Linked DNA regions of Homo sapiens: region 2 is linked to region 1. A link means that fine-mapping ties the variant in region 1 to the expression of a gene that starts in the linked region. Tissue or cell type: whole blood. Region 1 holds a variant in brackets; the other region holds the start of a gene. All regions are shown on one strand. Distances are from middle to middle.

Evidence for each region. PIP is the estimated chance that this variant, and not a neighbour inherited with it, causes the effect. A credible set is the group of variants that fine-mapping cannot tell apart.
Region 2: DCLRE1B starts here. The variant in region 1 is the best candidate, but not a certain one, in a credible set for the expression of DCLRE1B in whole blood (TOPMed, PIP 0.75).

The regions. Positions count from the first base shown.
Region 1 is chr1:113,597,955-113,600,768 of GRCh38, reverse strand. The region is part of intron 6 of MAGI3 (membrane associated guanylate kinase, WW and PDZ domain containing 3); the gene reads right to left. Among named protein-coding and RNA genes, the nearest start is that of PHTF1, 160 kb to the left of the region's middle. The variant G/T (reference allele first, on the strand shown) is at 1,213.
Region 2 is chr1:113,904,150-113,906,963 of GRCh38, reverse strand. DCLRE1B (DNA cross-link repair 1B) reads right to left here and starts at 1,638. Exons shown (of 4, transcript NM_022836.4): 1 at 1,189-1,638. The coding sequence starts at 1,377. It overlaps AP4B1 (adaptor related protein complex 4 subunit beta 1), which reads left to right and starts at 2,165. Exons shown (of 10, transcript NM_001253852.3): 1 at 2,165-2,359. The coding sequence starts at 2,247. RefSeq lists enhancers at 1,750-1,799, 1,830-2,389, 2,470-2,529.

The DNA of each region.
Region 1 (2,814 bases):
TTGACTTGGCAATGCGGACTCTTTTTTGGTTCCATATGAACTTTAAAGTAGTTTTTTCCAATTCTGTGAAGAAAGTCATTGGTAGCTTGATGGGGATGGCATTGAATCTATAAATTACCTTGGGCAATACGGCCATTTTCACGATATTGATTCTTCCTACCCATGAGCATGGAATGTTCTTCCATTTCTTGTATCCTCTTTTATTTCATTGAGCAGTGGTTTGTAGTTCTCCTTGAAGAGGTCCTTCATGTCCCTTGTAAGTTGGATTCCTAGGTATTTTATTCTCTTTGAAGCAATTGTGAATGGGAGTTCACTCATGATTTGGCTCTCTGTTTGTCTGTTATTGGTGTATAAGAATGCTTGTGATTTTTGTACATTGATTTTGTATCCTGAGACTTTGCTGAAGTTGCTTATCAGCTTAAGGAGATTTTGGGCTGAGACAATGGGGTTTTCTAGATATACTATCATGTCATCTGCAAACAGGGACAATTTGACTTCCTCTTTTCCTAATTGAATACCGTTTATTTCCTTCTCCTGCCTAATTGCCCTGGCCAGAACTTCCAACACTATGTTGAATAGGAGTGGTGAGAGAGGGCACCCCTGTCTTGTGCCAGTTTTCAAAGGGAATGCTTCCAGTTTTTGCCCATTCAGTATGATATTGGTTGTGGGTTTGTCATAGATAGCTCTTATTATTTTGAGATATGTCCCATCAATACCTAATTTATTGAGAGTTTTTAGCATGAAGGGCTGTTGAATTTTTTCAAAGGCCTTTTCTGCATCTATTGAGATAACCATGTGGTTTTTGTCTTTGGTTCTGTTTATATGCTGGATTACATTCATTGATTTGCGTATATTGAACCAGCCTTGCATCCCAGGGATGAAGCCCACTTGATCACGGTGGATAAGCTTTTTGATGTGCTGCTGGATTCAGTTTGCCAGTATTTTATTGAGGATTTTTGCATCAATGTTCATCAAGGATATTGGTCTAAAATTCTCTTTTTTGGTTGTGTCTCTGCCCAGCTTTGGTATCAGGATGATGCTGGCCTCATAAAATGAGTTAGGGAGGATTCCCTCTTTTTCTATTGATTGGAATAGTTTCAGAAGGAATGGTACCAGTTCCTCCTTGTACCTCTGGTAGAATTCGGCTGTGAATCCATCTGGTCCTGGACTCTTTTTGGTTGGTAAGCTATTGATTATTGCCACAATTTCAGA[G/T]CCTGTTATTGGTCTACTCAGAGATTCAACTTCTTCCTGGTTTAGTCTTGGGAGGGTGTATGTGTCGAGGAATTTATCCATTTCTTCTAGATTTTCTAGTTTATTTGCGTAGAGGTGTTCGTAGTATTCTCTGATAGTAGTTTTTATTTCTGTGGGATCGGTGGTGATATCCCCTTTTATCATTTTTTATTGCATCTATTTGATTCTTCTCTCTTTTCTTCTTTATTAGTCTTGCTAGTGGTCGATCAATTTTGTTGATCCTTTCAAAAAACCAGCTCCTGGATTCATTAATTTTTTGAAGGGTTTTTTGTGTCTCTATTTCCTTCAGTTCTGCTCTGAATTTAGTTATTTCTTGCCTTCTGCTAGCTTTTGAATGTGTTTGCTCTTGCTTTTCTAGTTCTTTCAATTGTGATGTTAGGATGTCAATTTTGGCTCTTTCCTGCTTTCTCTTGTGGGCATGGGTACATAACGAAATGAAGGCAGAAATAAAGATGTTCTTTGAAACCAACGAGAACAAAGACAACATACCAGAATCTCTGGGACACATTCAAAGCAGTGTGCAGAGGGAAATTTATAGCACTAAATGCCCACAAAAGATTTTGAGTTTTAAAAATTTATTGAGACTTGTTTTGTGGCCTATCATATGGTCTACTTTGCAGAAGGTTCCATGTGCTGATGAGAAGAATGTATATTCTGCAGTTCTTGGTTAGAATTGTTCTGTAAATATCTGTCAGGTTTATTTGTTCTAGAGTGTAGTTTAAGTCCAGTGTTTGCTGATTTTCTGCTCCAATGATCTATCTAGTGCTGTCAGTGGAGTGTTGAAGTCCCCTACTATTATTGTGTTGATATCTCCTTTCTTAGGTCTAATAGTAATTGTTTCATGAATCTGGGGGCTCTAGAGTTAGGGGTATATATATTTAGTATTGCAATATCTTCTTGTTGATCATTTTATCATTGTATAATGACCTTCTTTGTCTTTTTTTTTAACTGTTGTTGCTTTAAAATCTGTTTTCTCTGACATAACAATAGCTACTCCTGCTCACTTTGAGTTTCCATTTGTGTGAAATATCTTTTTCCACTCTTTTACGTTGAGTCTATAGGAATCCTTATGTGTTAGATGAATCTCTTGAAGACAGCAGATATTTGGTTTGTGAATTTTTATCCATTCTGCCAATCTTCTTCTTTCAAGTGAGCACTTAGACCATTTACATTCAACATTAATATTGAGATATAAGGTACTATTCCAGTCATCATGTTGATTGTTACCTAGTACTTTGTTTTCTTTACTGTGCTATTGCTTTATAGGTCCTGTGAGTTTTTTTTTGGAGGGGGGGTGGGGGGATGGCAGGCAGAGTCTCGCTCTGTTGCCCAGGCTGGAGTACAGTGGTGCAATCTTGGCTAACTGCAACCTCCACCTCCTGGGTTTAAGCAATTCTCCTGCCTCAGCCTCCTGAGTAGCTGGGATTACAGGTGCCCACCACCATGTCTGGCTAATTTTTGTATTTTTAGTAGAGATGGGGTTTCACCATGTTGGTCAGACTGGTCTTGAACTCCTGACCTCATTATCCGCCCACCACAGCCTCCCAAAGTGCTGGGATTACA
Region 2 (2,814 bases), 310 kb before region 1:
TGACTCCTCTCCGTTACCTCCCCGGGTCAGGGACTATCCCTTACATGAATCAGGAAAGCTGACCAAATCCTGAGCCACCGGGAGCAGAAGCTGTAATGGGGATTCCCAAGCAATCTGCCCTTCCTCCTTCCACTTCCCATCCCACCCTTTGTACAATTTAAGAGTTCAGCTGGCCGGGCGTGGTGGCTCACGCCTGTAATCCCAGCACTTTGGGAGGCTGAGGCGGGTGGATCACGAGGTCAGGAGATCGAGACCATCCTGGCTAACACGGTGAAACCCCGTCTCTACTAAAAAATACAAAAAAAATTAGCCAGGCGTGGTGGCGGGCGCCTGTAGTCCCAGCTACTCGGGAGGCTGAGGCAGGAGAATGGCGTGAACCCGGGAGGCGGAGCTTGCAGTGAGCCGAGTTTGCGCCACTGCACTCCAGCCTGGGCGACAGAGCGAGACTCCATCTCAAAAAAAAAAAAAGAGTTCAGCAAACAGTCTAGTCAGCAATTCCCAAACTTACTCCTGATCTTAATCTCTTGGAGACTTAAGGGTGGGGTGGGGAGAGAGCTGGAGAACCACCCAGCACATTAGGTGGATTCTTAAGATGAGGCAAGTTTAGGCGGGGCGTGGTGGCTCACGCTTGTAATCCCAGCACTTGGGGAGGCTGAGGCGGGCGGATCACTTAAGGTCAGGAGTTAGAGAACAGCCTGGCCAACATGGTGAAACCCCGTCTCCACAAAAAATACAAAAAATTAGCTGGGCGTGGTGGCGTGCGCCTGTAATCTCAGCTACTCAGGAGGCCGAGACAGGAGAATCGCTTGAACCCGGGAGGCGGAGGCTGCAGTGAGCCGAGATTGCGCCACTGCACTCCAGCCTGGGCAACAGAGCGAGACTCCGTCTCAAAAAAAAAAAAAAAAAAAAAAAAAAAAGGCAAGTTTGGGAAACATCGGCCTAGCTTACTTATAAAGGTAGGAATAGTTTCCTTGGCTGGATTAAAATATCTCCTCAACTTATGGCTAACTATCTCAAGTTGGTCACTTCGAAAACACGTTCCTATTCTGGGTTAAAGATGCATTTTTGGGTTCAAACAACTTCCAAATCAGTTTTCGTGGCCCCCATTCTATGACTCCAAGAATGACAGGTTGAAGTCCCAACCCAGATGCCTGGACCAGCTCTCGGAGACCGACTCCAGCCCCATACCTGTAGGTGACGATGCAAGAGGTGGGCTGTAATTGGGGAGCAGTAGAGGGGCCGGGCCCAGGTGCTAGACAGGCCCACGGTGTGGTCCGAGTGCATGTGAGACAAGAAGAAGAGACGTGCGGTGCCAGCCCGGCGCAGGCTCCAGAAGTCCACTGCGATGGGCGTATGGGGGATCAGGACCCCATTCATGGTGGTAGGGTTGGAGTCACCAGTGGGATCTTCTCCACGGGGGCAGGGCTCCTGCGTGAGGCTTCCACAACGGCGTCCCGATAAAAGTCATGCTGGGGCAAGAACAGGGCCAGAGACCCTAAGGGAAAGAGCCCAGCAGAGCAATAAGTTACCAGAGTGGGCAGAAAAAGGAAGTCACCCTGCCCGCTGGAGCCCAAATCGCGGAGGGCGCTGGACACTCCCAACCGCGCGGGAGCGGAGGCCGAGCCGGGCACTCAAAGCGCGCGCTGCAGGGAGGAGACAGGCCAAAGTAGCCGATTTCCGATTGCCCGCCGCAGCTCCACCAGAGGGAGCCGCGCAGCTGCGCCTGGAGAGTGAGAGGTTGGGGGAAGGGCATCCTAAGGTCGGAGTCGGGACTACGCTTAGCGCTCGCTCGCGGGGAGACCGGCAGCGGTCTTCTGTTTGGTCTCTTGACAAGGGGGCGGGACTTCCGCAGAAAGCAAGATTGGGCCTATCCGCGATGAGAACGGCGTGGAGGGGGAATTAAGGCTGGAACTGGAGAGGGAGGGGTCTGCGGTCAGTCGGACGCGGCGCTGGAAATCCGGCGGAGGACCTAGAAGTAGCGGGAGCGATCTGTGGGCGGGGCGAACGGCCTGCCGGCCGACGGTAGGGCCTGAAGAGCCTAGGGTGGGGCTCGCGGTGTCGCGGAGGGCGTGGAAGTGTGTCAGGGCCAGCGTGCCGGCCCTACGGAAGCCGAGCCTGAGGCGAGATCTCGCCTTTTGTATTTTCACTGACTCATATTTCCTTTACTCAGGCTCCCACATCAGGACGAGAAGGAGCCCTCGAGTTACCGTGGGAGCTGTGGGAGCTGCCCTGTGACTCTTAGGAAGATGCCGTACCTTGGCTCCGAGGACGTGGTGAAGGAGCTGAAGAAGGCTCTGTGCAATCCTCACATTCAAGCTGATAGGCTGCGCTACCGGAATGTCATCCAGCGAGTGATTAGGTATCACCTACCTCCCTTCGCGTGCTAACTGCTCCCTTTGCAATCCCCATCAGGGCTCACTAGCCCCAGTCTCTCTGAAAGGGTGAATTAGCTTTCACACGTGGCAGTTATATGGTTCGGTCTTCGTCCTGCTGCTTTGGAGTACCATGTCAGTCTCCCCTCTGCAGCATCTTTTACTCAGCTGGGTAGTTTCCTCCATATCACGGGCTTGAGCAATTACTGGTGACTCTTGGATCTATAATATAGCTAGTACAGACTTCCTTTTTTAGCTTCAGACCCACGTATCCCACTGCCTGCTTGGCATTTCCACGTGCGTGGTTTATCAAAAGTATGTCCGAAATAGCCCGGACATTCTTCCGTCTTCCTCAAACCTGTTCAGCTTACATTTGTGTTGATGAATGCCACCAGCAGCCGACTATGCGTGGGAGCCAACCTTGAGGACACCTGATCTCTCA